Linked DNA regions of Homo sapiens: region 1 is linked to region 2. Evidence: fine-mapped expression QTL. A gene starts in region 2. The other region holds a variant in brackets. All regions are shown on one strand. Distances are from middle to middle.

Evidence for each region.
Region 1: its variant is fine-mapped to the expression of FAM151B in whole blood (TOPMed, PIP above 0.99).

Annotation. Positions count from the first base shown.
Region 1 is chr5:80,504,822-80,521,274 of GRCh38, forward strand. It overlaps FAM151B (family with sequence similarity 151 member B), which reads left to right. Exons shown (of 6, transcript NM_205548.3): 3 at 8,783-8,948; 4 at 14,872-15,089. Among named protein-coding and RNA genes, the nearest start is that of FAM151B, 25 kb to the left of the region's middle. RefSeq lists enhancers at 2,290-2,790, 7,730-8,929. The variant A/T (reference allele first, on the strand shown) is at 9,018.
Region 2 is chr5:80,479,651-80,496,103 of GRCh38, forward strand. It overlaps FAM151B (family with sequence similarity 151 member B), which reads left to right and starts at 8,450. Exons shown (of 6, transcript NM_205548.3): 1 at 8,450-8,498. The coding sequence starts at 8,474. ZFYVE16 (zinc finger FYVE-type containing 16) reads left to right here. Exons shown (of 19, transcript NM_001284236.3): 19 at 1-3,729. It overlaps FAM151B-DT (FAM151B divergent transcript), which reads right to left and starts at 8,296. Exons shown (of 3, transcript NR_172938.1): 1 at 8,128-8,296; 2 at 5,816-5,911; 3 at 3,150-3,516. RefSeq lists silencers at 1,808-1,917, 8,720-9,014 and enhancers at 8,054-8,555, 8,556-9,055, 13,874-14,460.

The DNA of each region.
Region 1 (16,453 bases), 25 kb after region 2:
GCTTTTGTGCCCCTTTATAACCACACTGATAAAGGAGACCTACAACCCCCTTCCCCAACTTCATCCTGGGAAAATAATAAAAGACTAGATCATCTATCTTTCTGCAAATTCACTTGCCCTGTTGTCCTTGCAGAAGTTTGGCCATAGGGTGAAAGAACAACTTCTCTGTATCTGCCCTCCCCCTGGCGAGATAAGCCACACAAACATCAGGACTCAGCACTATTCACATGGTTGAAGAATTCCACCTTTGGCAGAGGGCTGGAAGCTGTTTGGATAGTACCTGGACATTGCTTAGAATTGCATTTGATAGAGAATAAAAGGAGTATAAAACTCTTTGATTGGTCTTGGTGTTTTGGTGTTTATTTCTTTATTTTTATTTTTTGTAGAGAGTCTGGTCCCAAACTCCTGGCTGCAAGCAGTCCTCCTGCCTCAGCCTCCCAAAGTGCTGGGATTACAGGTGTGAGCACCACACCCAGCCATTTTGTTATTTTATGCTTTGCCTCACTGTAATTAAAAGATCCTAAATATGGTATAGCTTAGAGAAGAGAGACATAGCAAACATCCATTGAGTTCTTTTTTTTTTTCTTTTTTGAGACAGAGTCTCACTCTGTCACCCAGGCTGGAGTGCAGTGGCACGATCTCGGCTCACTGCAAGCTCCGCCTCCTGGGTTCACACCATTCTCCTGCCTCAGCCTCCCAAGTAGCTGGGACTGCAGGCACCCGCCATCACGCCTGGCTAATTTTTTGTATTTTTAGTAGAGACGGGGTTTCACTGTGTTAGCCAGGATGGTCTCGATCTCCTGACCTCGTGATCTGCCCGCCTCGGCCTCCTAACTTGCTGGGATTACAGGCGTGAGCCACCGCACCCAGCCACATCCATTGAGTTCTTACTACATCACCAGTCCCCTTTTCTTTCTTCCTATAAGAATTTTTTTTTTTTTTTTTTTTTTTTTGAGACAGAGTCTCGCACTGTCATCTGGGCTGGAGGGAAATGGCACAATCTCGGCTCACTGCAACCTCTGCCTCCTGTATTCACGTGATTCTCCTGCTTCAGCCTCCCGAGTAGCTGGGATTACAGGCTCACACCACCACACCCGGCTAATTTTTTGTATTTTTTGTAGAGACGAGATTTCACCGTGTTGGCCAGACTGGTCTCGAACTCCTGACCTCATGATCCGCCTGCCTTGGCCTCGCGAAGTGCTGGGATTACAGGTGTGAGCCACCACGCCCGGCCAAGAACTTTACTTTTATTAAGGTATCCATTTCTGCTCCATACAAGCATATGGAAACTGGTTCCATTTGTAGCTCCAGGGGTGCATTACAATAAGTTAATCAGCACTTGAAGTTTTCCTGATGATTCATATTGCTCCCATGGTGGGCAAGTGATCAAACTGGGCTCAATTAGACTCAAGTAAAGTAATTATAATTACCAAAGAAGTTTTATATCTTAAAATTGAAGTATGTGAACATGAAAATATGTAGCCCTAGTGATTATTGGTAGCTGTCTTAAAATCATGAGATGAAATTAGCCTTACGATGAAGACGACACCAAGGACAGTGAAGAAAAGAGACATAAAGATCACAATAACATCACTGAGCTGCTGATTGTACCACACTTAAAGCTCACCTGACCCCTGGACTTTTAGTTATTTGAGATGATAAATCTACTAGCTTGAATCTGAATTTCTATTTATTTGCCGCCAGAAGCATCCAGTAGATCTATGAGTCCATCCTAATTGGATAGATTATTTTCCCTGCTTCCACACTTGCCCCTGTCTATTTTATTTTCCACCCAGCATCCAAAGTGGTATATTTAAACATAAATCAAGCCTCTTTATTGGTCTCAAATGGTGTTCCATTTAAAATCTTTAATATAATTGCTAGATAGAAACATGTTTGGTTCTACTGCTCTGGTTTCCAAGAGGAGAGATTTTTTTCCCTAAAGGCTTTGACCTCTTGCCTCACTGTTTATTTCTCTCATAGAGGTTGAGAGATTGTTTTGATTTGTAGTTCTTGACTGGGTGGAGCTAATCTATCAAATGCACTAGGCCAAGCAAGGTGGCTCACGCCTGTACTCCCAGCACTTTGGGAGGTCGAGACCAGCCTGGCCAACATGGTGAACCTCCGTCTCTACTAAAAATACAAAAATTAGCTGTGCATGGTGGTGCATGCCTGTAGTCCCAGCTATTTGGGAGGCTGAGGCAGGAGAATTGCTTGAACCCAGGAAGCAGAGGTTGCAGTGAGCCAAGATCATGCCACTGCACTCCAGCCTGGGTAACAGGGTGAGACTCCATCTCAAAAAAAAAAAAAAAAAAATGTGCTGGACAAGGGAGTGAGCTCTTCTCTTCCACTGGGAAGCAGCCATCTGGATATTTGTATTTGTTAGAACTTTGCTTCAAAGGGGCTGTTCCAAGATTTGGACTAGAGGGTGACTGTGGCAGTTAGCAGGTAGCAGGCACAGGCTTATTTAGTTCTCAACTAAGCTGTGTCCTCTGACCTAGCTTTAGAGGTAATACAAGTATACTTTGATCCCTGTCTACTTAACTTGGCTATTTTATTTCTCAAGATCCACTTGGAGGCCAGGTGTGGTGGTTCACGCCTATAATCCCAGCACTTTGGGAGGCCAAGGCAGGTGGATTGCTTGAGACCAGGAGTTTGAGACCAGCCTGGGCAACATGGAGAAACCCCGTCTCTACTAAAAATACAAAAATTAGCTGGGCATGGTGGTGCATGCCTGTAATCCCAGCTACTTGGGAGGCTCAGGCAGGAGAATTGCTTGAACCCAGGAGACAGAGGCTGCAGTGAGCTGAGATCATGCCACTGCATTCCAGCCTGGGCGACAGAACGAGACTCTGTCTCAAAACAAACAAACAAAAAACAGATCCATTTGGAGAAAGGGGTGCTATTTATTGGCATCTTCAAACTACTTCAATAACCTGAAGGGCCTGCACAGACTGGCCTGTGTCTCCAAGTCCACCTTCACAGTGTTTTCACATTCCTAGAAATTCCCACACTGGCCTCACAGCAGTGCCTTGCATGGCTACGCTCCCTCCTCCTTGGGCTGTCACACACATTCTTTCCTGGAAAGCTCTTTTCCCCACACTCTGCCTTGCTAACCCCTTAAGCTGATCCTTTGGTATCGGCTGAATTGTCACTTCCTCAAAAAGACTTTTCCTGACTCCAGAATCAAAATTCAGGGAAGCACCTTCCTATGTGGCCTTTTGTGACTGGCTTCTTCAATTAGTATGTTTTCAAAGTTCAGCTGTTTTCTAGTGTGTATCAGTTCTTTATTCCTTTTTATGACTGAATCATTTTTGTATGTAGATATACCACATTTTGTTTATCCATTCATCAACTGGTAGACATTGGTTGTTTCCCTTTTTTGCTACTATGATTACTGCTGCTATGAGCATTCACATACAGGTGTTTTTGTAGACATGTGTTTTCAGTTCTCTTGCTTATATGTCTAGGAGTAGAATTCCTGGGTCACATGGTAACTATATGTTTAACTTTTTAAAGAACTGCCAAACTTTTCCAAAGTGCCTGCTCCTTTTTACATTCCTCCTAGCAGTGTGGATAAGGGTTCTAGTTTCTCCACATCTTTGCCAACACTTGTTATTGTACTTTTTTTTTTTAATTATAGCCAGCTAAGTGTATATGAATTGGTATCTCATTGTGGTGTAGATTTGCATCCCCTAAAGACTAATGCTGGTGAGCATCTCTTTGTGTGCTTTTTGGAAATTGGCTTATATTTGCAGCTGAGTAGCTTTCTTAGCCTGTTCCCTGCCTGTAGAAATTTGGGAGCCCACAGACCTCTTTTCGTTTTGAACTATCTCTGTCCTTTTGTGTCCAAGTAGTTATATCTCCCTTAAAAATATAGTGGGCTTTTAATATATTAAATTTAATCAGAAGCCACACCCCCGTCTCTTTGAGGTAGACCTCTCTCTACTTTGGTATGCAAGTTAAGGTGCAGTGGACAACACCCTTAAGATTCCAGAAGATTCCATATCTAGCTATGTGGCTACATGAGGCACCTTCTTTCTGAGGGCTTAATAAAGGGTCATATGGTTGTACCCTTGGCTTGATATTGACACTGAGGCCATGTTTTACTGGTGCTATGGTTTGAATGTTTGTTCCATCCAAAACTCATGTTGAAATTTTTTTTTTTAAGAGACAACGTCTCACTCTGTCACCCAGGCCGTAGTGCAGTGACGCAATCACAGCTCACTACAGCCTTGACCTCTTAGGCTTAAGCGATTCTCCCTCCTCAGCCTTCTAAGTAGCTGGGACTACAGGCGTGTGCCACCAGCATGCCTGGCTAATTTTTTTTTTTTTCCAGTAGAGATGAGGTCTCGCTATGTTGCCCAGGCTGGTCTTGAACTCCTATGCTCAAGTGATCCTCCTGCCTCTGGCTCCCAAAGTGCTGGGATTACAGGAGTAAGCCACCACTCTGGCTTCATGTTGAAATTTAATTGCCAGTGTAACACTGCTGCGAGGTGATTAGGCCATGAGGGGTCCACCTTCATGGGTGGGTTTAATGCCATATTTAAAGGACTTTGGAAAGTGGGTGTTCTCTCGCTCCGCCTTCCACCAGATGAAAATGCAGTGAGAAGGCCCTCTTTAAGTATCAGCACTTTGATATTGGATTTCCCAGCCTCCAGAATGGTGAGCCAATAAATGTCTGTTTATTATAAATTACCCAGTCTGTGTTATTCTGTCATCACAGTATAACACAGACTAAGACAGGCAACACCCTAGATTTAAATTTTGGCCCGAGACTGTCTCTTACTTTGAGAATCTCTTGCCAGCTGGAGAGGACAGGAATAAGAAACAGTTTTATTTTCAAATTCAGAAAGTCCTGATTTGGAAATATTTTCTCTATATGCTGCTGAAAATCTGAAACGTTAATTATTTAGCTTAGCTCTTTCTTCTCATTCTTTATTATAAGCAGTTAAAAGAAGCCAGTTGCCACTTTCACCATTTCCCCTGGAAACCTCTTTAGCCAAATACACAGGTTCACTGGGTATCCTGTCTATCTTCCACCAGTTGCTACAGTGACAGTGTTGCCAGAAGTTTTACCACTATGGAAAACAATAAAATGAGCTTATTGTTCTCAAGCTTCCAGTAAGAATTTCTGCACTGCTCTTCCAGCTTCCATGAACAGTTCCCTCCTTGCCTTTCTTAGCCTCCACCAGGTCACAAAGCCAATGCCACATGTTTCAGGTTTTTGATATGGCAACACTCCACTTCCAGCTACCTATTGCTTTTTATCTATTGCTGTGTAATAGAATACCCAAAAATGAGTGACTTAAAATAGCAGTGCTGTATTTTTTTCTGATGATTTTATGGGTCAGCTGGTGGTTCTGTTGCATGTAGTACGGGCTTAGGACGTTCATGTAGCTGCATTCAGCTGGGTGCCCAGCTGGGCCTGGAAATTCTAAAATGACCTCACTCATATGTCAGTGGCCTTAATGCTCTCTGTCAGATAGGAAGTCTTAGTTCTCCTCCACGTGGCTTCTCTCTCTCTATGTGGTCTCTCAGTCTTCGGTAATCTTGCATGAATGTCTTTACATGGTGGCTGGATTTCAAGAGTAAGAAAACTGAAGGTGCCAGCAGTTTTAAAGGCTAGGCCTAGAACTGACAGTTTTATTTCCACTACCTTCTGTTGGTCAAAGCAGATCACAAGTGGTGCCAATCATAATCCCAAAAGACACAATCCCAAATGCCATATCCCAAGTGTTGAAATGCTGAAAGATCAAAATCCATAGCCTAAAATCCTTAATATCTAATTGAATCCCCAAACTATAATGATAGATTTAGAATTAGGTGCAATCAAGGCTTATAAGAGTGAATTTCAAGTTGTTACCAGTAAAGTTTGTCTTTTTCATTCAGCCTGATGCCTTTAACAGAAAACTCAGATGAGTGGATTGGTCACGTGAGATGGCAGTGACAAAAACTTCAGTTTAAAATGCCTTATGGATCTGTATTGGCATTCCTTCCCGCTGATGAAATTCTAGGAGCTTTTAGTAAATTAAAGCTGCATTTGCATGAAGAAGCCAGAGAAATTACTGACTGGTTTGAAGATAATGACGTGCATGGTCGGATAAGAAGACATGCCCTGGAGTTGCTGTTTGACCATCAGTATTGTTTCCACCAAATTTGTGATCTGCATATAAGTGCATGTGAAATGGATTTCCACATACCCAAAACAGCATAGAAACATGGCACAGAAGATCGGAAAGTTTAATAGGGAATACTCATGCAGGTGCATATCAAATCATAGAAGAAGTTGAGAAAAAACAGCGCCACATAGAAAATGAATCTGAATGTATCCTCCAAGGAGACTCATGCCCTAAAAGAAAAAATGTGGCCGGGTGTGGTGGCTCTCACCTGGAATCTTAGCACTTTGAGAGGCAGAGGTGAGAGAATCATTTGAGTCCAGGAGTTTGAGACCAACCTGGGCAACACAGTGAGACCTCATCTCTACTAAAAATTTAGAAAAATTAGCAGGGTGTGGTGGTGCATGCTTGTAGTCCTGGCTACTCAGGAGGCTGAGGCAGGAGGATCCCTGGAGCCCAAGAGTTTCAGGTTGCAATAGAGTGAGACTCTGTCTCAAAAAAAAAAAAAAAAAAAAAAAAAGGAAAGAAGAAAGCAACTATTTATTGCAGTGCAGGTTGGCCACCTCTTATGGAGTACACTTGTGCGATTACCTGTCATCTATCCCACTTTTTTCATGTGTCAAAGCTTCTTTTTCGTTTTTGCCCACTATTTTATTATTTATCTTTAAAAAAAATTTTTTTTTGAGACAGGAGTCTTGCTCTGTTGGCCAGGCTGGAGTGCAGTGGCACAATCTCAGCTCACTGCAACTTCCGCCTCCTGGGTTCAAGTGATTCTCCTGCCTCAGCCTCCTGAGTAGCTGGGATTACAGGCGCCTGCCACCACACTTGGCTAAATTTTGAGTTTTTAGTGGATACGGGGTTTCTCCATGTTGGCCAGGTTGGTCTCAAACTCCTGACCTCAGGTGATCTGCCTGCCTCAGCCTCCCAAAGTGCTAGGATTATAAGCGTGAGCCACCATGCTTGGCCATTTCCACTATTTTAAATGGTCAGCATTGTTTTTTATAATTCACTATGCTACATAATTCATCTTTGCATTGTTTCTGGTATTGGAGGTATAGATTGTATAAAGACTCTTAGAGTGTTCTAATTTGTTTTATGCATTTTTTTCAAATTTGACTCCACAGAGCTGCATTTTCACAACATTGACTTTGTGTGTAACCATTGCGCTTATTGATAAAAACGTTGAAACTTTCACAGGAAATGAAGAGATATCCATTTGTACATCTGCATTTGTGAAAGATAAAATTTCTCAAGATCACAGTTCTTTGGGTGACTATGTGTATGATGGCAACCCATCACAGTTTTTGACTGATCTTGTCAAAAGACTTAGGTTGTTCATCAAGTTATTTCAGATGACTGCAGTTATTTAAGCTATTTCTTTATGATTACAGTTCATTTGCTCATGTTATATCTCTGAACTGATTAATATACCTGGGTGTTTATGCTTGCAAAAATGTGTGTTATTATTGCCTATTTTATTGTGTAAAGTGGCCTCTGAAGTGTTCTGCCATGTTTTCATAGGTTTCTCAAATAAATGCCCTTTTAAAAATGAACAGGATTGGCACAGTGGCTCATGCCTGTAATCCCAGCACTTGAGGAGGCCAAAGCAAGATTACTTGAGCCCAAGAGTTCACGACCAGCCTGGGCAACATAGTGAGACCCTGTCTCTACAACAGATATTTTTTAAAAAAATCAGCTGGGCATGGTGGCACACACCTGTAGTCCTAGCTACTCAGGAAGCTGAGGCGGGAGGATTGCTTGAGCTCAGGAGGTCAAAGCTTCGGTGAAGTATAATGCTGCTACTGCATCAGCCTGGATGACAGGGTAAGACCCTGTTTCTAAAAAAAAAAAAAAAGAAATTTAAAAAAATGTAAGTAAATGCATTTTAAAGAATTTTTAAAATTATTTTTTCCAATATTTTCAGGATTTTGATCTTTTGGGATTGTGATTTTGGGGATTTTAGACTTTAGGGATTTTGATTTTCTGGGATTTCAAAATTCGAGATTATGGCATTTGGGGAATTACGGCCCCAACCCATCACAAGACCTGCCCAGCTGAAGAGGCAGGGAAGAGGATGTTGATGGGAAGAGCGGTATGCATGTCCTGGAGGAGTTGTTGGCAGCCATCTTGGAGTCAGTCTGTCACAGCCTGCTGAACATACTTACACCATGTCTGCTGAAGCTCCTTACCTGTTCAAAGGATGTATGCTTTTAAGCAGTAACTAAACCGTAAGTCAAAGAAGTGAATTTTTAATGTAGATTTTCAAACATGAGCAATGAATATCCATAATTTCTAATTTGAGGAGTGAGAAGATAAAAGTACGATTTTTATTCCCAGAAAGCTTCAGCAAATACTTATTAAGCCTTTCATTATGTATGTACTTTGCTGGTATTAGAAAGAAATTCAGAATTTGTATGTCAACAGCTTAAGATCTGTGTAACTTAGGGAAAGTCATTTAACTTCTTGACATCTGTTTGCTAATCTAAAAAATAGGGAGAATGTGTACGGACCTTGTATACTGCCTGGCATGGGATAATCGCTCACTGAGTGTTACTTTTCTTTCCTTTTTTTTTATCTTCCTCAAAAGGATACTGAACATGGTGCCTCCTGTAGTTCTGTGCCCTGTTTTCTTAGCATTAACTGAAGTTCTTTTATTTGGACAGGTACTGCTCACATGATAGAGGCTGATGTCCTTCTTCCAAGTGATGGATCAGAACACAGCCAGCCAATTATGGCCCATCCCCCTGAAACAAACAGTGATAATACTCTACAGGAGTGGCTGACTGAAGTTATGAAAAGCAATAAAGGCATCAAGCTGGATTTCAAAAGGTATTTGTATAAACACGTTCAATTTTCTGGGAAAAAAGTAATAGCTGTGCCTGACTACCTATTTTTTTT[A/T]ATGTTATCCAAACTGAAAATGGAATTGTAGACTCTAATATATTTCAGGACTGAACCTAAATGAACCTAAGACCCACTGAGTTATTTACTAAAATTGTTTTTTGGAGACCCTTAAAGGCAAAAGTTAGATTAATTTTTATAAAGGAATTTATCATAAGTGACCATCGTGACAACAGAAAGGTAAATTAAAAATGCTACATATGTTAAAAAGTAACCCAGGAGAGAGAGAGCTGGGAGAAATTCATTGAGCTAGTTAATGCATACCCTATTTGATTTATGTTATTATATTTGTAAAGGGAATTATTTAGAATTCTCCAATAACCAAAGTGTTTCTTAAAAATAATGCTTGGAGGCAGCCGGGCACAGTGGCTTCAGCCTGTAATTCCAGCACTTTGGGAGGCTGAGGTGGGCGAATCAACCGAGGTCAGGAGTTTGAGACCAGCCTGACCAAAATGGCGAAACGCCACCTCTACTAAAAATACAAAAATTAGCCAAGCATGGTGGTGGGCGCCTGTAATCACAGCTACTGGGGAGGCTGAGGCAGGAGAATTGCTTGAACCTGGGAGGCGGAGGTTGCAGTGAGCCGAGATCACGCCATTGAATTCCAGCCTGGGCTACAAGAGTGAAACTCCCTCTCAAATAATAATAATAATAATAATAATAATAATAATAATAATAATAATATTTGGAGGCATTAATACTGAAGAGCAAGAGTAAGCTGTCATTTCCTTCACTGTGGCCATCACAGGAAATTTTACTTTTGTAGTATTTTAGCAGTGTAAAAATGATAAAGAAAGCCAGAAATATACAGCAACACTTCAGAAGCACACTGTAAAGCTTATGAAGGCAGCTGCTATTGAAATCTAGGATTGGCAGTAAGCCTACTTCATCTCTGAGTAATATTTTTAAATAGAATTATCTCAAGAAATTAATAAGGACTTGGAATCTTGTAGGATTCTTAAGATGACTCTAACCATTTGTTATGGGGCAAAATATACCAGTAAACCTTATTATACCGTTAGTGAATGAATAGATGTATAAAATCTTGATATACAGGAGTTTGGATTGACAGGGTCTTGTGAATTAAAGAACTATCTTAAGATCATAAACTTTTTTTTCGACCGGGCACGGTGGCTCACGCTTGTAATCCCAGCACTTTGGGAGGCCAAGGCGGGTGGATCACCTGAGGTTAGGAGTTTGAGACCAGCCTGGCCAACATGGTGAAACCCCTTCTCTACTAAAAATACAGAAAATTAGCCAGGCATGGTGGTGCGCACCTGTAATTCAGCTACTCGGGAGGCTGAGGCAGGAGAACCTCTTGAACCCAGGAGGTGGAGGTTGCAGTGAGTTGAGATTGCGCCACGGCACTCCAGCCTCGGCAACAAGAGCAAAACTCTGTCTCAAAAAAATAAATAAATAAATAAATAATAAAAAATCATAAACTTTTTGAGTTATCAATGGTTCAATTTCATTTTATTGACAAAGAAACTTAGTTCCAGAGAGGTTAAGTGATGTACCTGAGGGTAACAGGTAAGCTTTGACAGGTAAGCTACAACCAGATCCTAATTCTCCTGAAGCCAGTCCAGTGTTCTCTATATCATGAAATAAAGCATTTGATCTTTAGTGCTTGATGGCTTAAACTTTTAGATCTCCTTGATGTCACGTGCTCAGTTTTTCATGTTTACTATTGCCCCTTGAATTGTTTCCTGGGACATATTCTTTGGCTTCTCACCAGTCAGATCAGCTCATTCATTCTTAAGTGCTAGCAGCTAGCACAAAAGCGCTGAGCCTCTGAAACAAAGATTTTGCAAGTTTTTTTTAAAGTCATAACATATTTGAAGGGGATTCAATATAAACTAATAGGTATGTGAACACCTATTACATGTCAGACACTGTTGTAAAAGCATTGCATGTATTTTTCATTAAATTCTCGTAACAATCCTAAGAGGTAGGTTATTGCTGTTATTCTCATTTTCCGGATGAGGCAATGGAGATGGAGGGGCTGAGGAGCCCGCTTGTCACGTAGTTGTTAGTGGAACTAGAGAGCTGTCAGCCTGGCTGGAGAGTTCACACTTTTAACCAGAATGCTGCACTCACTCCCTTTGTAAGAGCAGCTGAATGACCTGTTAGTTAAGTTTTAGTAGTTCTTGTTTTGTGCTTCTAAGTTACTTTGTTTGGTACACAAATAAAAAGTATTATATTTTGGCTGGGCGCAGTGGCTCATGACTATAATCCCAGCACTTTGGTAGGCCAAGGTGGGCGAATCACCTGAGGTCAGGAGTTCTAGACCAGCCTGACCAACATGGAGAAACCCCGTTTCTACTAAAAATACAAAATTAGCTGGACGTGGTGGCACATGCCTGTAATCCCAGCTATTCGGAAGGCTGAGGCAGGAGAATCACTTGGACCCGGGAAGCGGAGGTTGCAGTGAGCCGAGATCATGCCATTGCACTCCAGCCTGGGCAACAAGAGTGAAACGCCATCTCAAAAAAAAAGTATTATATTTTTAAATTTTATCTGGAGTCTCAGCAAGCTCTTCAGCGTTTTAGCTAAGAATTATTTTCCCTTAAACAATGCAATTTTATATAGTTTGTTACAATTTTAAGTACGATATTTATTTTATCATTCCCAATTTTTAAATGAAATTAATAGGAAAACAGGGTATGATATTTAGAAGTTTGATTTACAAATAACTTTTTAGGAAAAAAATATATTCTATAATAACTAAGTTTATATTCTTTTCAGGAGACTTAAATAAATACCACCAAGGAGCAATTTTCAGTAGTAGTCTCACCAGGACTTTCCTCTTCGGATGATCATCTTGGTGAAGCTTTGGTACTTCCTTATGGAAACTTAGTACTAATATATGTAAGAATTGAGAATGTTGGCCACTGTATTTTAAATTAGAATCACATGGAATTTATAGATTAATTTAGAAGGATGTGTCATTTTATAATACATGCAATATTGAGTCTTCCAGGCTTGGTCTGTTATTTCTTGTAGTATACAGTAGTCCTCTGTTATCTGCAGTTTCAGTAACCTGCAGTACACCATGGTCTAAAAGTGTTAAATGGAAAATTTGAGAAATAAACAATAAGTTTTAAATTACACACCATTCTGAGCAGTGTGGTGAAATCTGGTACTTTCCTATTCCATCCCAGCTGGGGTGTGACTCATCCCTTCCCTTCGTCCAGCGTATCCACACCATATATGCTGCCCACCTGTTAGTCACTTAATAGCCGTCACAGTTATCAGATTGACAGATCACAAGAAGAAGGGTGAGTACGGTACAGTATGCTATTTTGAGAGAGAGAGAGAGACCACATTCACATAACTTTTATTATAGTATATTGCTATAATTGTTCTATTTTATTACTAGTTTATGTTGCTAATCTCTTACTGTGACTAATTTATAAATTACACTTTATCAGAGATAGGTATGTGTAGGGAAAAAAAACAGACTACATATAGGGTTGGGTGCTAGGTAGTTTCAGGCATCCCTTGGAGGTCTTGGAACATATTCCCTGCAGATAAGGTGGACTACTGTAGATTTTATTTTGTTGTTTAGGAAAGTTTGTTCTCAGTTCTTTTTTCTCCCACAAAATGTTACACCTTTTCTTCCAGAAGAACTTTAGAATTACTTCGTCAAGTTTTAGAAAATAAGAACTACAACAACAAAAAGTTTTTGGTTCTTTAGTGAGGTTTTAAATTTGTTTAACCGCAGATTTTAAGTTTCTGGTAAGGGAAAATATCATTATCCTTCGTCTACATTAGTGATAATTAAAATATTTACATATAAAATGGAATAAATGTACTAAATTCTTGCTTCACTGTGTTCTTTGTCATAGTTCCTTATGTTTAACTGCACAGTGCTTCGCATGTAGTAGGCACTTAGTAAACACTGGTGGAATTTCGATTTGTGGGAGAATACGCTGTTTGAAACTGGATATTGGCCAGGTGCGGTGGCTCATGCCTGTAATCCCAGCACTTTGGGAGGCCGAGGCAGGTGGATCACTTGAGGTCAGGAGTTCAAGACCAGCCTGGCCAACATGGTGAAACCCCATCTCTACTGAAAATACAAAAATTAGCTGGGTGTGGTGGCGCATGCCTATAGTCCCAGCTACTTGGGAGGCAGAGGCAGGAGAATGGCTTGAACCCGGGATGCAGAGGTTACGGTGAGCAGAGATCGCACCGTTGCACTCCAGCCTGGGTGACAGGGCGAAACTCCATCTCAAAGAAAAAAAAAAAAAAAAAAAGAAACTGGATATTATCAGATGAAGAATCAATCTTAAACCACTCACTCTATGTCAACTTACTAAATTGAGAAAGCCTAAAAGGCTCCCTCCTGAAATGTAAACTGGAAATTAGTATTTAACCCAGCTTCCATAAGACACCAGATTTCTTAAGAAATCAGAGTCCTTTTTGGAAAAAGAGGAGCTTGGCAGGAGGCATGCATGGATTAGTTCAAGGTTTTTCCTTACTCCACCCATGAAGAGCAGCACCTCATGGGGACTTGGCTGCTGCTATGGGACTGACAGACAAGCAAGCTTTGGAGTCACAGGTACAAGTTGCTTGCTACGAAAAATGGAATTTTGTAGGAAGTACAGTGTTGGATCTCAGAATTGTGGTTTTAACATGGTGTTGACACAGGGCAAGGCAGGGAGAATTTAAAAGAGACAAATGACAACATCTAAATTAATGTCTGCAGAGTCCAGCATTAAGGTTTATTAATCCACTAAAATCTAGGCCCTCCCCAATTCAGGGGCAGAAGAGTGAGAAGGAAGCGTACCACATGGCAGCAGAGGGAAAGGGGCTAGAAGCTAAGGGATAGAGCCTGGGTTCCTCTGGTTTTAGTACATAGTATCCTTGCTCACTGGTAAACATAACCCAATAAATAATGAGATTATTTAAATTTCTTCTCTTAGAGTAGGAGGCCCAAAAGGAGTGGAGACAAGAGAGGTAGAAGCATAGACAGAAGTACTGCCGTCTCTTAGGAAGAGAGAGGGAAATGTGAGGAGGGGTCGGTGAGTGTTCTCCCCTCCAGTATCCATCTCCAAAATTCATAGCCTCCCATTATGATATTCACTACAAGGTAATTTTCTTATAAATGAACATAGGCAAGTAAAAATTATGGAAGCTGATTAAAACCTTATTGTTTCAAAGTCTGTAGTTATCAGCTAGAATATCTGTAGGGAAGTAAAAAGATTGAAGTTGCTTTTTAAATTTGAACTAAAATATACGTATTTCTAATTTTCAGAAAAGGTTCTTACAATAAAAGAAGAAAAATGAAACAGAAACTTGAAGGAAATACTATAATTTTATATTTTACAGTCATTTTTAGAATTGTTTATGTATCCAAACTCACCCAAGAATACATAAGGGAAAGAAGCTACTTTTATTCTCCAGGGTCATGAGCCTGAATTAGAGATACAGGGCTTGGATCCACTTGGGTATTTCATAAATGTGAATTTACAGGTTATTAAGTGTATTTCATTTATCTTATTTATACATTCTGGAACGAGTGAATATTTGTGTCTTTTAAAAAACTGTTTTCACACCAAGTGATCCTAATATGGAGTTTTGAAACCTCTATTTTGTCCACAAGTAGTACCACTATTCATATATTTATAGACTCTTTAAGGTATATTCATGAATAATAAGCACAGTTCAACATTTAGAGATATGGCATATGTTAGCTTTTCCCTCTGGTGCTATGCGATCTTTGATTTTATTTAACCCAGACATTATTGTATTTTGATTATGAATTTGAGAACATTGAGACCACTAGTCTAAAAGAACTTCTTTTTACTTTACCTAAAGAATCTATCTCATTGACAACAAATTATGTTTTTAGTCTGGCAGTTGTAGAACCATCCATGATGCTCTTGGAAAATGTGAAGAGGCATCTGAAGCGTCCTGTATGGATTAATGCCGATATTCTTCCTGGTCCAAATGGAAATAGCAAAGTAATAGATGCAAAACCATTTTTAGACACCGTGATATCCTTCTTTCCAGACGTGACGTTTTCCCTGGGTTGGACAACAGGATGGCATCCTGAGAAAGTCAATGAAGGTAATAATTCTAATAATGTATTTCTTGGTCAAATTAAAATATCCTCCAGGTATAAAAATAACATCTTTAATACAAAGACCAAAACCCATTCTACAAAATCTAAGCCTGATGGAAAAAAAGGCCTGACCCTTCAGGTATGTGCAGACCCTTCCATCTGCTCTTTCAGATAGATGCCATGTTCACTGGTGACGCTGCAGATTTTAAGAGAGTTCACACATTTATAGTCATATAAGTAAAGCTTCTGTTAGCAATCTCTTTTTCTAATTTTTAAAAATATAATTTTCCAGATTTTAAAGGAAAGTGGAACACGTCCCTTCTTTTTATCAGGAAATTAGCTGCTAAACTAACATATTCACTTAAGATTTCTGTAAAATGTTCCTTTACTGACTGACCAATATTTTTTACAACTTGCTTTTGATAGAGTATAGAGTTATTTAAAATAGATATATTCTGGCCGGGCGTGGTGGCTCATGCCTGTAATCACCACACTTCGGGAGGCCAAGGTGGGCGGATCACCTGAAGTCAGGAGTTTGAGACCAGCCTGGCCAGCATGACGAAACCCCGTCTCTACTAAAAATACAAAAGTTAGCCAGGCATGGTAGTGTGTGCCTGTAGTCTCAGCTACTCGGGAGGCTGAGGCAGGAGAATCACTTGAACCCAGGAGGCGTAGGTTGCAGTGAGCCAAGATCGTGCCACTGTACTCCAGCCTGGGCAACAGAGTGAGACTCTGTCTCAAAAAAAAAAAAAAAGTGTGTGCATATATATATATGTGTGTGTATATATATATATATTTATTTATTATGTATATAGTTTATTTATATATAAAAATATATATTCTCTATATATACATAGATACTTTTTTTTCAAGCTATTTAGAAACAAGCAAGTGTGTTTTCCATGTGGTTTTTTTTTTTTTTAAATAGAGTCTTGCTCTGTTGCCCAGGCTGGAGTGCAGTGGTGTGATCTCAGCTTACTGCAACCTCCACCTCCCAGGTTCCCAGGTTCAAGTGATTCTCGTGCATCAACCTCTTGAATAGCTGGGATTACAGGCGCCACCACGCCCAGCTAATTTTTGTATTGTTTTTTAGTAGAGATGGGGTTTCACCATGTTGGCCAGGCTGGTCTCAAACTCCTGACCTCCAGTGATCCACCCACCTTGGCCTCCCAAAGTGCTGGGATTACAGGCATGAGCCACTGCACCTGGCCTTTTTTTTTTTTTTTTTTTTTTTTTAAAAAACAGGGTCTGGCTCTGTCACCCAGGCTGAGTGCAGTAGTACCATCATGGCTCACTGCACCTTCAACCTCCTGGGCTCAAGTGATCCTCCCACCTCAGCCTCCAGAGTAGCTGAGACCACAGGCATACA
Region 2 (16,453 bases):
TAAAATACAAGAATAATCTTAAAACATCAAAGAGATTTTCCAGACAATAAGGAATGCCAAGTCCAAAAGTAAAGAGAATAAGAGAAGCAAGCATGTACCCTTACTCTGACAACCTTATGAGTGAGGGGGACAGAAATTAAAGTTCAGGGCCCATATAAGGTGATGAACCTAACAGGAGACCCTCCACACAATAGGCTGAGACTCCCAAATACTTTCACCTTTAGGATGATAATGAATCAGAGGTGGAAGAACCAATGTAAAAGAACAGGCAAGTTTAGAATTGCCCCAGTGATCTAAAGAATCTTAAGCACTGAGCTTCCTTTAAGGTGTTCCCACACTAGTAATGCCTCCAGGTGACAGAGAAAATAAAATGTAAATACTTTTCATGGAAAAGTAATTTCATTGTAGGCCTCAAATTACTTTTCAAATATGTCTAGTAACACATAGTAAAAAGTAGTCATATAAGGAAACTAGATTCCAGAGGCAAGAATTACTTGAAGCAATGAAAACAAACTCACAGATATAGGTATTAGATTTGTTTTCTTTGTTTAAGGAAATAAGGTGTGTGAATGTACTTGCAGGAAATGGGAAACTATACGATAAAAAGTTGTGGAGCTAATCTGGAAAAGAACTGAATATAAACATTACAAGAATATACATAAAAACTGCACTTTAAAACTCAGTAAATAGATGTAATAGAATGTAGCCAATTGGGGTAGTTTATAAACTGGAAGATAACTCAGGAGAAACTATTCACAGTGCACCATGGGAGAAACAGCTGGAAAAAAAAACAGAAGACCTGTAGAGAATACAGTGAAAAATCCTAAGTGCTTCATTAGCTGTGAGAGGAGAGGCAAGAATAGGACAGAGCAAATACTTAGATAGAATGCAGAATTTTAAAAACTGATGAAAGACATGACCCCACACATTCTAGAAGCCAGACAAATCCCAAACAGAATAAACTAGAAAATCCACACATAGACACATAATAAGGCCAGGTGCAGTGGCTCACACCTGTAATCGAGCACTTTGGGAGGCCAAGGCAGGAGGATCACTCGAGCTCAGGTTGAGACCAGAGTGAGCAACACAGGGAGACACTGTCTCTGCAAAATTAAAAAAATTTTGCCAGGTGTGGTGGCTCATACTTGTGGTCCCAGCTTCACGGGGGCTGAGGTGGGAGGATCACTTGAGCCCAGGAGGTTAAGGCTCCAGTGAGCTGTGATCGTGCAACAGAGCAAAACCTTGTCTCAAAAAAAAGGAAAAAGAAAAAAGACATTTAACAGGAAAACTGGAAATGCTAGCTGACAGAGAGAAAAATAGTCCAAGGAACAATTTGCTGTTTCTAGTCAGAGGACCAGAAAGGAGGTTGGAGGCTATGGGACAAAACCCTTTTTAATTTAATTGCAGTATTCTAAGAGAGCCTCAGGAAAGATGCAGTAAGACCCACCGCCCCACCAGGAGAACCATGGGTAATGACTTGGAACCTTCTGGACTTTCCTTGCTCTACATCAATCCCGCAGCAGTAAAGAGGTATCACTCTTCTCTTCCCCCTGGTGCACTAGTGGCAGACATTGCAGGGCAGAACACTGGCAATGGGGAGGCTAACGCCCTGACTTTCTAGCCAAAAACCAAGAATGGGGTTCTAGAAACCAGAGTATAGGTAAGATCACAAATAGGAGGGAACTGAAGAAAAGGAACCCTTAAATCTGTCAATAAAATCCTGGGATCATCTCACAAGCTGTGTATGTGTGAAACTAACCAGAAGCAGCTGAGCAAAGGTTCTGAACACTGAATTACAGTGTAGGCCACTGTCCAAGTTTCAGATTGGCCACTAGATGGTGCACAACTGGGGCAAAGAACAGCTTAACAAAGGCAGTGAAAACTAACATTGGAACCACAGCCACCAAAAAAAGTGGCCAGGATGTGTGCTCTGAAACTTAACTGAATTGATGGTCTGCTAAAACAAAACAAAACAAAAACATTCTTATGAAGATTTAAACAGGATAGAGAATATCATAATATTCCAAATATATCCCAGAAACAACCCAAAATGATTGGACAAAGAACTTGTGAAACCTAAGCAACTCTCTAGGGAAAAGACAATGAACAAGAGCCAACTCTAAGGTTACCCAAATGTCAGAATTATCAGAAAAAGACTTAAAACTAGTTATTTTATTTTTTTTATTTATTTTTGAGACAGTCTCTATCACCCAGGCTAGAGTGCAGTGATACAATCTTGGCTCACTGCAACCTCCACCCCCAGGGTGCAAGTGATTCTCCTGTCTCAGCCTCCTGAGTAGCTGTGACTACAGGTGTGTACCACCACGCCTAGATAATTTTTTGTATTTTTAATAGAGACAGAGTTTCACCACGTTGGCCAGGCTGGTCTCAAACTCCTGACCTCAAGTGATCTGCCTGCCTGGGCCTCCCAAAGTGCTGGGATTACAGGCATAAGCCAGCACACCTGGCCGTTAAACTAGTTATTTTAATCATGCTACACAAAGAAGACATTTCTCCAAAGGAAATATATAAAGGGAAACACTGTTGAAATAAATGGAAAGCTAAAAGTCTCAGCATAGAAGCTATAAAAAGAAACAAGTGGAAATTGTAGAACTGAAAATACAATAACAAAATTTACTGGAAGGTCTCAACACAATGAAGATGACTGAGGGAAGAGTCAGTAAATTTGAAGATACATGAGCAGAAATTATCTAGTCTGAATGACAGAGAAAAAAGTGAAAAAAATGAGAAGACCTTTGGGGATCTGTGGGACAATATGAAACAGTCTAATATTCATGTCTTAGGAGCCCAGAAAGAACAATTGGAAGAAAAAAATATCTGAAGAAATAATAGCTAAAAACTTCCAAACATCTGGCAAAAAACAAATATTCACATACATTTACATAGCATTCTATTTAAAGCCGGTCTGCTGGCACAGCAAATCCCAAAAAGGAAAACCACACCCAGGCACGTCATAATCAAAGTGATGAAACCAACTGTAAAGAAAATACTTTGAAAACAACTGGAAGAAAACAACACTTTGTATATAGGAGAACCAAAGATTTCAGTGATGGCAGATTTCTCATCAGAAACCATGGAGCAACATTTATAAAGTGCTTTTAAAAAGCAACAAAACTGTCAACACAGAATCCTTTATCCAGCAAATATATTCTTTAGGAAAGAAAATGAAATAAAGACATTTTCTTTTTTTTCTTTACTTTTTTTTTTTTTATGAGATGGAGTCTCACTCTGTTGCCCAGGCTGGAATGGATTGGTGCGATCTCAGCTCACTGCAACCTCCGCCTCCCGGTTCAAGCAGTTCTCCTGTCTGAGCCTCCAGAGGAGTAGCTGGGATTACAGGTGCGTGGTACCACGCCCAGCTAATTTTTTTATGTTTGTAGTAGAGACGAGTTTCACCATGTTGGTCAGGATGGTCTCAAACTCCTGACCTCAGGTGATCTGCCTGCTTCGGCCTCCCAAAGTGCTGAGATTAGAGGCATGAGCCACCATACCTGGCTGAAATAAAGACATTGTCAGAAGAAGGAAAGCTAAAATAATTCATTGCTAGTAGTCCTCCTTTAACAGAAATGGTAAAGGAAGTTCATGGGGAAGGAAAATGATTGCAAAGAAGGAAGAGCAACCAAAATGGCAAATCTCTGGATAAACCAAATAGACTTACATGTTTGTTAAAATATATGTAACTGCTGAAATAAAAAAATTGTAACATCATCTTTTGGGATTTTCAATGCATATAGATGTAATACAGATGAAAACTGCATACTAACCAAGGGGACAGTGACAGAACCTATATGGTAAGTTTTCTAAATTTCACTTAAAGTGGTAAAACATTATAGTAGGTTACAAAAAGTTTGGTATGTAATGATCATCTCTAGAGCAACCATTTTAAAAAACTATGCAAGGAGATATGTTTAAAAAGCCGACATATAAAGTGGAATTTTAAATAATTCAAAATAAAGCCAGCAAGGAAAACAAGTGTAAAAGAAATAAGGGATCAACAAGAAAAATTAATGCTAAAATGGTAGACCTAAATCCAGCTGTATCAAAAATTACACTAGGCCAGGTGTGGTGGCTAATGCCCATAATCCCAACACTTTAGGAGGCTGAAGCAGGAAGATCACTTGAGGCCAGGAGTTCAAGATCAGACTGGGCAATGTAGTGAGGCCCCGTATCTACATAAAACTTAAAAGAATTAGCCAACCATGGTAGTGCATGCCTATAGTCCTGGCTACTCAGGAGGCTGAGGTGGGAGATCATTTGAGCCCAGTAGTTTGAGGCTGCAGTGAGCTGTGATCATACCGCTGTACTCCAGCCTGGGCCACTGAGCAAGACCCTGTCCCTAAAAATAAAAATAAATAACAATTACATTAAATGTAAATGGTCTAAATATGGCAATTGATTTTTTTTTTTTTTTTTGGATCAAGTCTCATTTATTCTGTCACCCAGGCTGGAGTGCAGTGGCACAATCCCGGCTCACTGTAACCTCCACCTCCCAGGTTCAAGTGATTCTCCTGCTTCAGCCTCCTGAGTAGCTGGGATTACAGGCATGTCCACATCTGGCTAATTTTTTCTTTGTTTTTATTAGAGATGGAGTTTCACCATTTTGTCCAGGATAGTCTTGAACTCCTGTCCTCAACTGATCTGCCTGTCTTGGCCTCCCAAAGGACTGGAATTACAGGCATGAGCCACCATGCCTGGCCAGATGGATTTTTTTAAAACCTAATTTATATGCTATCTATACAAGCCACTTATGATACAATGGTACATGCAGGTTAAAAAGTAAAAGGATGGAAAAAGATATTCCATGCAAACACTAAAAAGAAGAAGAAAAGGACAAAGCTGGAGTGGTTATTTTGCTATCAGACAAAGCAAACTTCAGAACAAGGAATATTACCCTGTAATTTATTTTTAAATTTATTTATTTATTTATTTATTTATGAGACAGGGTCTCATTGTATTGCCCAGGCCTAGGGTGCAGTGGCTATTCACAGGCACAGTCATGGCACACTACAGCCTTGAACTTAGGCTCTTAACCCATCCTCCTGCCTCAGCCTCCTGGGTAGCTGAGCCTACAAGTGCGTGCCACTGCACCCAGTTCCCCTGTGATTTATTATTGCATTTCATAGACTAGATACCAAGTTCAGAGAGAGAGTAATCTGTCCAAAGTCACACAGCTAGAAACTAAATTGGAATTTGAGGGAAAACTTTCTAGCTATTAGGACTCTGAAAATGAGGTAAGCTGTATTCATGCAGTGCTTTGTTTTGATTTTGAGACAGAGTCTCACTCTGCGGCCCAGGTGGAATGCAGTGGTGTGATCATGGCTCACTGCAGCCTTGAGTTCCTGGGCTCAAGCAATCCTCCCACCTTAGCCTCCTGATTAGCTGATACTACAGGCACATGCCGACACACCTGGCTTGTTTTTTATTTTTTCGTAGAGATGGGTCTCACTATGTTGTCCAGGCTGGTCTCAAAGTCCTGGTCTCCTCCTGCCTCAGCCTCCCAAAGTACTGGGATTACATGTGTGAGCCACCATGCCTGGCCTTTATTCATGTTTAGATGTCACCAAAAGCAGCCCCAGACTCAAGTTGGGGCCTGTGTCTCACATTCTAATCGTTATATTCTTTCCCCAGTGCAGCATGTACCCTTAACTTACAAAACCTTTTTTGTGCCAAAAAAGTAATTAGACTTATTTTTACCATAAAATTTCCAAACACTCAGAAGTAAAGGAAATAGTAGGATGAAAATCTATATACCCAGCCTACAACAATCCTCTGAGTCAACACTATCAAGACTTACCTCTTTTGCTTCATCCATCCCTTAATTTCTTTGCTGGAGCATTTTAAAGCAAATATCAGACATACCCTTTCACGCCTCACACTTCAACATGCGGCTCTAAAAATAAGGACAGTGAAGAGGAATTTTGAGTCAGTTATTGTAAAATATATGAAAATATTGTAATATTGTGACCAATATGTCATAAAAACTTAGCAAACTGATGCAGGAACAGAAACCAAATACTGCATGCTGTTACTTATAAGTGGGAGCTAAATGATGAGACACATGGACACAGAGTGGGGAACAACACACTGGGACTTTTGGAGGGTGGAGGGTGGGAGGAGGGAGAGCAGGAGAAACAATGAATGGGTACTAGGATTAATACCTGGGTGATGAAACAACCTGTACAACAAACCCCTATGATACAGTTTACCTGTGTAACAAACCTGCACTTGGACCCCTGAAGTTAAAAATTTTAAAAATGAAAAAAAAAAAAAGCCGGGCACAGTGGCTCACGCCTGTAATCCCAGCACTTTGGGAGGCTGAGGCGGGTGGATCACTTGAGGTCAGAAGTTCGAGACCAGCCTGGCCAACATGGTGAAATCCTGTCTCTACTAAAAATACAAAAATTAGCCAGGCGTGGTGGTGCGTGCTTGTAATCCCAGCTACTCAGGAGGCTGAGGCAGGAGAATCGCTTGAACCCGGGAGGTGGAGGTTGCAGTGAGCCGAGATCGTGCCACTGCACTCCAGCCTGGGGGAACAGAGTGAGACTTCATCTAAAAAAAAAGAAAAACAAGTTTTTTAAAAAAGACCTGTACTGCAATCAATGCCATCAAGAAAGTGAAAAGACAATCTGCACAACGGGAGAAAATATTGCAAATATTTGCAAATTACCTGTTAAGGGACTTGTATTGAGACTATATAAAGAATTCTCACAATTGAAATGAGCACAGGATTTGAGAAGACATTTCTCCAAAGGAAATATATAAATGACCGATAGCACCTGAAAATATGCTCAATATTATTAGTAGGGAACTACAAATCAAGATAATGAGGTAGTACTTCATATCTACTAGGATGGCTATAATTTAAAAAACATAACAACAAGTACTGACTGGTAAGGATGTGGGGAAATTGGAATCTTCATACATTGCTGGTGGGAATGAAAGATGGTACAGCTGATTTGCAAAACTGGCAGTTCCTCACACAGTTAAACAGTTACTATATGAACAAGTAGTTCCACTCCTAGGTATGTACACAGATATGCACACAGGAATGTATTCATATACGTCCACACAAAACTTGTCCATGAATGTTCACAGCAGCAGCATTCATAAAAGACAAAATGTAGAAACAACCCGAATGTCCTTCAGCTGTTGAATGGACACACATAAAATGTGGTATTTACAAACTGGAATTTATTCCAGCATAAGAAGGAAGGAAGTACTGATACATGCTAAAACATGGGTGAATTTTGAAAACATGCTAAGTGAAAGAAGCCAGTTACAAAGATCATACATACAGTCTGTGATTCTATTTACATGAAATTCCAGAATAGGCAAATTCATGAGACAGAAAGTAGATGAGTTGTTGCCTGGGGGTAGGAAGGGGGTAAATGGAGAGTGATTGCTTTGGAGTGATGAAAAATATTTTATCTGAAAGGCTGGGCAAGAATAACTCCCCTTTGTATTACGTGTCAGGTGATGTTAGTTATCCTAACTCTACCACTGGCAGATTGAGTTTTTTGGTCACAGAAGCTGAAAATGGCAGAGCTTTGTTGTTAATTCTGATCACTAGTTTGGCTTCAAAAAGTAATGAGTTAAGGAGGGCTAGAAAGACAGTGGATGGGAGGACCCAGTTGCTGAGAGCGTTTTCTGAGTGAACACTGGTAGAGAGACAGAAGGGGAGAGAAAACTTCAAGTTATCAGCTCGGTAACTTTGTACAAAAACTTATTTATTTATTTATTTATTTATTTGACAGTCTAGCTCTATCGCACAGACCGGAGCGCAGTGGAGCGATCTCGGCTCTCTGCAACCTCCACCTCTCCGGTTCAAGCCATTCTTGTGCCTCAGCCTCCCGAGTAGCTGGGATTACAGGCGCGCGCCACCACGCCAGGATAATTTTTTAAATTTTCAGTAAGGACGGGTTTTAACCATGTTGGCCAGGATGGTCTCGAATTCCTGACCTCAAGTGATCCGCCCACCTCGACCTCCCAAAGTGCTGGGAGTACAGGCCTGAGCCACCGTGCCCGGCCAGAAACACTGATTTTTATCAGTAATGATTCCACACCCTTTTAGGATATTACTAACATTTAAAAGAAAATATACCCAACTGTTGAAATTCGTGCTCCACTCCAGCAACTGCTTTCAATCGGAGTTCCATCCTCCGCCGCAGTATGCCCTAACGCAGCGTTATCTTCAGAGCTACCACCAGCTTCCGAAACCTTTCGGAGGAGCGCTTCGCCACCACCTGCACGGCGAAGCGGCGCGTAAACGAACCTCGAACGCCAGCCTTTGCGCCTGCGTGCCGCGGCTCCGTTTGGTTCCGCTTCGCTGGCGCCCGCCGGGCTCTTCCCCCGCCGAGGCCTGTGGTTTGTGGAGTCGAATTTCCCTGCCACCAGTGCCCGGTTAGCAGGGGCGCCAGCCTGGGCGCCTGCGCGGACGGCGGGCGTCGTCACCATGGCAGCATCCGCTGGAGGCCCAGGTAAGCGCCGAGCGCGCGGCCTCTGCCTGGAGGTGGGGCGCTTTGAGAGGCTCCGCCGGCCGTACCCTCCCTTTGCGGGCTCCCGCGGTCTTCCTTGCTAGGGACCTGGGAGCGCGCCGCGCAGAACCGGGCGGCTGGGCTTGGAGCCCGCTCTGCACTCGGGGCGCGCCCGCGATCGCCTGGCAAGGACCTTGGTTTGCCGGGTGGGCTCTAAGGGACAGGCGTTAGGGGAGGTCGAGAATGGCAGGGTCAGTGTCTTTTGAGGTCTGGGTTGGAAAGAAAGGAATGTGACGTTTCCCTAATCCTTAATTTCAGCCGACCGTATGGGGGCGGTCTGGGTCAGTAGGTTCCTCTTTGAAAGCTGGGGGAGGTTTGGGAATGCGGACTGGGCCGGGCCCGGCATAGTCCCGCTGCTGAGCGCGCTGCCTGGAAAGCTGGCAGAGTGTGCGGCTCGCTTGATTCCCCTTGGAATCAGGTGCTTCAACTCGCGGGACAGCAGTTCCGCTCTTGAAGGTTACAGTATCTTTTCTGTAAACTTAAGTAGTGGCATGAGACAACGTCAGTGACGCGTTCTTTCTTCAGTTTAGATTTTTTTCCCTAATTGTAAAAATAATACACGCTTTCACCATTCTGACTAGCAGGCTGTATAAATACAGGTTCTCTTCTGAATCGATGCACAGTTTACAGAATCTTGGAATAAAATGTGTGTGTAAGCGAAAAATGTCCAGGTCCTGATAAATGCCATTATAGAACATTTATAAAGTATATTAGTATAGGGAAATAGGAAAAAAAAATCCCCCAAATGCTGATACCCACAGGCACCACTACTAACTTTTTGGTATTTTCTAACAACCCTGACTCTTAAAAATAGAGTTAAGGTCATGGTAAACATAATTTTTAAAATCCTGCATCTTATACTATCCCATGTCACCAAGGTTTTTATAAACATAATTTTGAATGACTGAAGTGTTTTATACAATTATATTGTATACAATTATATTGTAATTAACCAGTCTCCTAATGTTGAACGTTAATCAGTCGTTTCCTGTTTTGTTTTGTTTTGTTAGAATTCATTCTGTAATGAACATTTTTGCATTGTTCTTCCTCAGTTATGTTTTTGGTTTGTTTTTATCCTGGACACGATTCTTGTAACTGAAATTACTGGATCAAAGGATGTGAACTTTTTTCTCTCTCTCTTTTTTAAGATCTGTGCTAAACCTCCGTAGAACATTTTTTCAGACCAGAGTTTTCCTTTTTTAACCCTTGTGCTCTTCTCAGTATAAATCCTTTTAATGCCTAGTTTTCCTAAGAATCCAAACAAATCTGGGACAAAGCTCACACTCAAGACTTACACCATTCTCACTCACAGGCTGTATAAATCCAGATTCTCTTCTGAATCGATGCAAGGTTTACAAAATCTTGGAATAAAATGTGTGCACAAGTGAAAAATGTCCAATTGCTGACAAATGCCATTTTTTAAAAAACAAATTTTTGGGCCGGGCGCGGTGACTCACGCCCGTAATCCCAGCACTTTGGGAGGCCGAGGTGGGCGGATCACGAGGTCAGGAGATCAAGACCATCCTGGCTAACACAGTGAAACCTCGTCTCTACTAAAAATCCAAAATAATTAGCCGGGCGTGGTGGCGGCGCCTGTAGTCTCAACTACTAAGGAGGCTGAGGCAGCAGAATGGCGTGAACCCGGGAGGCGGAGCTTGCGGTGAGCCAAGATTGCGCCACTGCACTCCAGCCTGAGCAACAGAGAGAAACTGTCTCAAAACAAAAACAAAAACAAAAATTTCTTCTCATTACCGAGTTATTGATAAAACTAATTCTTAACCAGATTCTTCCGTTATATGTCATTTTTCCCCCTTACACACACACACACACACACACACACACACACATTCTCAACATAAAAAAGTTCAAAAGGCACAATAGGATGTATAGTGAAAAGTTCCGTCCTGGCCGGGCGTGGTGGTTTACGCCTGTAATCTGAACACTTTGAAAGGCAGGAGGATCGCTTGAGCCCTGGAGTTTGGATCAGCCTGGGCAACACAGGGAGGCCTTATCTCTCCAAAAGAAAACAAATAAATTAGCCAGGTATGGTGGTGGCACATACCTGTGGACCCAGCCACTCAGGAGGAGACTGAGGCGGGAGAATCGCTTAAGCCGGAGAGGCTGCAGTGAACCAAGAACATGCCAGCCTGGGCAACAGAGCCAGAGCCTTAAAAAAATTAATAAATTCTTCAAAATCCTTACTGATGTACAATTTGCATACTATTAATATACAACTTATTTAAAGAGTATAATTCAGTGGTTTTAGCTTATTTATTTAATTTTAGCTTATTCACAGACTTGTGCAACAATTACCACAATTAATTTTAAAACATCTTCACCTTACAAAAAGAAACACTTCCCCATCCCCCACCCTTTAACATCCACAACTGCTATTCTTCTATTTTCTGTCTCTATGAATTTGCCTGTTCTGGATGTTTCATATAAATGGAATCATCCAATATAGACCCTCTTATGTCTAGCTTCTTCCACTTATCATAGTGTTTTCAAGATTCATCCATCTTGTAGCATGTTTCAATACTTCATTCCTTTTTATGGCCAAAAAAGGAATTGCATGAAACACCACATTTTGTTTATCCACTCATTAGTTGATGGACATTTGAGTTGTTTCCATCTTTTGGGTATAGTGAATAATGCTACTGTGAACATTTGTGTACAAGTTTTTGTGTGGACATATGGTACATTGTCTTTAATGGTAAGTCAATTCTGGTAGTCACTTTTGGAAACTGGAAGGAACCTTAATGATTGTCTAGTCCAGGGGTCAGCAAATAGCAAACTTTCTTTTTTAATTTTATTTTTAATTGACAAATAATAATTGCATATTTGCGAGGTACAATGTGATGTTATGATACATGTATACATGGTAGAATGATTAAGTCAGGCTAATTAATATATCCATCACCTCACATACTTATCATTTCTTTGTAATGAGAACATTTAAAATCTACTCATTTAAGAAGTTCAAAATATATAATACACTATTATTATTATTATTATTATTATTATCATTGAGACAGGGTCTCGCTCTGTCACCCAGGCTGGAGTGCAGTGGTGCAATCATGGCTCACTGCAGCCTTGACCTCCTGGGCTCAAGTGATCCTCCTGCCTCAGCCTCCTGAATAGCAGGGACTACAGGCACACACCACCATGCCTGGGTTATTATTATTGTTAGTTTTAGTGGTAGAGACAAGGTCTTGCTTCATTGCCCAGGCTGGTCTCGAACTACTGAGCTTAAGCAGTCCTTCCGCCTCAGCCTCCCAAAGTGCTGGAGTTACAGTTGTGAGCCAGCATGCCTGGAATTACTAACTATAGTCACCATTGCTGTGCAATAGATCTTGGGAACTTATTCCTCCTGTCTAACCGGAACTTTGCACCCTTTGACTGACATATCCCCCTCCCATCCAATTGCCCTGGCTGCATCCCTAGCCTCTGGTAACCACTATTCTGCTTTCTACTCCTAGAGCTCTACTTTTTGATGTCCCAAATGTGAGACTGTGCAGTATTTTTCTTTCCGTACCTGGCTTATTTCACTTAGCATACTGCCCTCCAGGTTTCTTCGTTTGTCGAAGATGACAGAATTTTCCTTTTTAAGGCTGAATAGTACCCCATTGTGTATCTATACCACATTTTCTTTATCCATTTACCCGCTGATGGTGCTTAGGTTGTTTCCATATCTTAGTGGTCAGCAAACTTTTTCTGTAAAGAACCAGAAATTAAATTTTGGGCTTTGCAAGGCATAAATTTATGTTCCAACTAATCAACTCTGCTATGGTAGCTGGAGAACAGCCACAGGTCGCACAGGGAAGGAGGTTGGGATAAATAGAGGGAGCACAGAGGTTTGGAGCAGCAACACTGTGATTCCGTATGATATTGTAGTGGTGGATACATGCCATTGTACAAGCATTCCTTGTTTTATTGTACTTCACTTTATTGTGCTTTGCAGATAATCCTTTTTTTTTTTCCCACAAATTGAAGGTTTGTAGCAACCTTGTATTGAGCAAGTCTGTTGGTGCTGTATTTTTCAATAGCATGTGTTCACTTTGTGTCTGTCACATTTTGGGAATTCTTGCAATATTTCAAATTTTAAAATTATTATATTTATTATGGTGATCTGTGATCAGTGATCTTCAAATACTACTATAATAATTGTTTTGGGGCACCACAAAGTCAAACTTAATCTGTAAATGTGGTGTGTGAGCCTTGCTGGCTTGGGCAGTGCATGCTGGCCGGCTTGGCGAGGATAAAAAATAAATAAATAAATATGGTGTGTGTTCAGACTGCTTCACCAGCCAGCCATACTCCTGTCTCTCTCCCTCTCCTAGGGTCTTACTATTTCCTGAGACACAAAAATATTGAAATTAGGCCAGTTAATAACCATAGAATGGGCTCTAAGTGTTTATGTGAAAGGAAGAGTCACCTGTTTCTCACTTAAAATCGAAAGCCAGAGGGCTGGGCACAGTGGCTTATGCCTGTAATCCCAGAACTTTGGGAGGCTGAGGTGGGAAGATCACATGAAGCCGGCAGTTCAAGACCAGCCTGGGCAACGTATCAAGACCTTGTCTCTACAAAAAATTTTAAAAATTAGCTGGCTGTGGTGGGATGCACCTGTAGTCCTAGCTACTTGGGATGCCCAGGCAGGAGGATCACTTGAGCCCATGAGTTTCAGATTATAGTGAGCTATGATTGCACCACTACACACCAGCCTGGGCAACAGAGTGAGACTTGTCTCTAAAAAAAACAAAAACAAAATCAAAAGCTAGAAATGATTAAGCTTAGTGAGAAAAGCATTTCGAAAGCTGAGAGAGGCCTCTTGTGCCAAACAGCTAAGTTGTCAATACAAAGGAAAAGCTCCTGAAGAAAATTCAAAGTGCCACTCCATGGAACACACAAATTATAAGAAAGCAAAACAGCCCTATTGCTGATATGGATGTTGTGGGAAGTCAGGGACCCCGAATGAAGGGACCAGCTGGAGCCGAGGCAGAAGAACATAAATTGTGAAGATTTCATGGACATTTATCACTTCCCTAATAATACGCTTATAATTTCTTATGCCTGGCTTTACTTTAATCTCTTAATCATGTTATCTTCATAAGCTGAGAATGTACGTCACCTCAGGACCACTGTTGTACAAACTGATTGTAAAACATGTGTGTTTGAACAGTATGAAATCAGTGTACCTTAAAAAAGAACAGAATAACAGCAATTTTCAGGGAAATAGGGAAGATAACCATAAGGTTTGACTGCCTGCGGGGTTGGGCAGAATCGAGCCATATTTTCCTTCTTGCAGAAAGCCTATAAATGGATGTGCGAGTAGGAGAGATATCGCTGAATTCTTTTCCTAGCAAGGAATAACCCTGGGGAAGGAATGCATTCCTGGGGGAAGTCTATAGACAGCTGCTCTGGGAGTGTCTGTCTTATGCGGTTGATATAAGGATTGAAATACACCCTGGCCTCCTGCAGTACCCTCAGGCTTACTAGGATTGGGAAATTCCAGCCTGGTAAATTCTAGTCAGACCGGTTCTCTGCTCTCAAACCCTGTTTCCTGTTAAGATGTTTATCAAGACAATATGTGCACAGCGGGACATAGACCCTCATCAGTAATTCTAATTTTGCCTTGCCTTGTGATCTTAATTGCCCTTTGAAGCATGTGATCCTTGTGACCTACTCCCTGTTCATACACCCCCTCCCCTTTTAAAATCCCTAATAAAAACTTGCTGGTTTTGTGGCTCGGGGTCATCATCACGGTCCTACCAATATGTGATGTCACCCCTGGAGACCCAGCTGTAAAATTTCTCTCTTTGTACTCTTTCTCTTTATTTCTCAGACCAGCTGACACTTAGGGAAAATAGAAAAGAACGTACGTTGAAATATTGGGGGCTGGTTCCCCCGATATATGGAGAAAGTTTGAGTGGTCTGGATAGATCAAACCAGCCACAACATTCCCTTAAGCCAAAGCCTAATCCAGAGTAAGGCCCTAACTCTCATCAATTTTATGAAGACTGTGAGAAGTGCAGAAGCTACAGAAGAAAAGCTGGAGATTCTCAGAGGTTGATTCATGAGGTTTAAGGGAAAAGGCTGTTTCTACAACAAAAAATTTCAAGGTGAAGCAGCAGGTGCTAATGGAGAAGCTACAGCAAGTGATCCAGAAGATCTAGTTAAGATCATTGATGAAAGTAGCTGCACTAACAGCAGATTTTCTTTCTTTCTGTCTTTCTTTCTTTTTCTTTCTTTCTTTTCTTTCTTTCTTTCTTTCTTTCTTTCTTTCTTTCTTTCTTTCTTTCTTTCTTTCTTTCTTTCTTTCTTTTTTAAGACAGGGTCTCCCTCTGTAACACAGGCTGGAGGGCAGTGGCATGATCGTGGCTAATTGCAGCCTGGACCTCCTGGGTTCAATCGATCCTCCCACCTCAGCCCCCCAAGTAGCTGGAACTATAGGCACACACCACCACGGCCTACTAATTTTTGTATTTTTTTGTAGAGACGGGATTTCGTCATGTTGCCCCAGCTGGTCTCGAACTCCTGGGCTCAAGTGATCCTCCCACCTCAGCCTCCCAAAGTGCTGGGACTACAAGCATGAGCCACTGTGCAGGGCCAACAATAGATTGTCAGTGTAAATAAAACAGCCTTCTATTGTAAGAAGATGCCATTAGAACTTTCATTGCTAGAGGGGAAAAGCCAATATTTGGCTTAAAATCTTCAAAAGACAGGCTGACTTTCTTGTTAGGGCTAATGCAGCTGGTGACTTTAAGTGGAAGCCAGTGCTCATTACTATACTGAAAATCACAGGGTCCTTAGGAATTATGCTACATCTACTTCTCTGCCTGTGCTCTAGAAACGTAACAACAAAGCCTGGATGACAGCACGTCTGTTTACAGCATGATTTACAGAATATTTTAAGCCCACTGTGGGGACCTGCTGCTCAGGAAAAAAAATATTTCTTTCAAGATATTACTGTTGATTGACAAGGCACCTGGTCACCCAAGAGCTCTGATGGAGATGTGCAAAGAGATTGATGCTGTTTTCCTGCATGCTTGCATCTATTCTGCAGCCCGTGGATCAAAGGGTAATCTTGACTTACAAGTCTTATTATTTGAGAAATGTTTTGTAAATCTATAGCTGCCATAGATAGTGATTCCTCTGATGGATGTGGGCAAAGAGTCATCATCCTAGATTCCATCAAGAAGATTTGTGATTAATGGGAGAAGGTAAAAATATCAACATTAACAGGAGTTTGGAAGAAGTTGATTCCAGCTCTCATGGGTGACTTTGAGGGATGCAATACTTCAATAGAGGATGTAACTGCAAATGTGATAGAAATAGCAAAAGAGGGCAGGGCGCAGCGGCTCATGCCTATAATCCCAGCACTTTGGGAGGCTGAGGCAGGCGGATCATGAGGTCAGGAGATTGAGACCATCCTGGCTAACACAGTGAAACCCCGTCTCTACTAAAAATGCAAAAAATTAGCCGGGCGTGGTGGCGGACGCCTGTAGTCCCAGCCACTCGGGTGGCTGAGGCAGGAGAATGGCATGAACCCAGGAGGCAGAGCTTGCGGTAAGCCGAGATGCGCCACACTGCACTCCAGCCTGGGCGAAAGAGCGAGACTCCGTCTCAAAAAAAAAAAAAAAAAAAAAAAAAAAAAGAACTAGTAAGAGAACTAGAATTAGAATGGAGCCTGAAGATGTGACTACATTATCGCAATTTTATGATAAGACTTTAATGAACTAGGAGTTCCTTCTTATGTATGAGCAAAGACAGTATTTTCTTGAGATGTAATCTACTTCTGGTGAAGATGCTGTGAACATTGTTGAAATGACCACAGATGATAAAGAATATTACATACACTTAGTTGTTAAAACAGCAGCAGAGTTTGAGAGAATTGACTC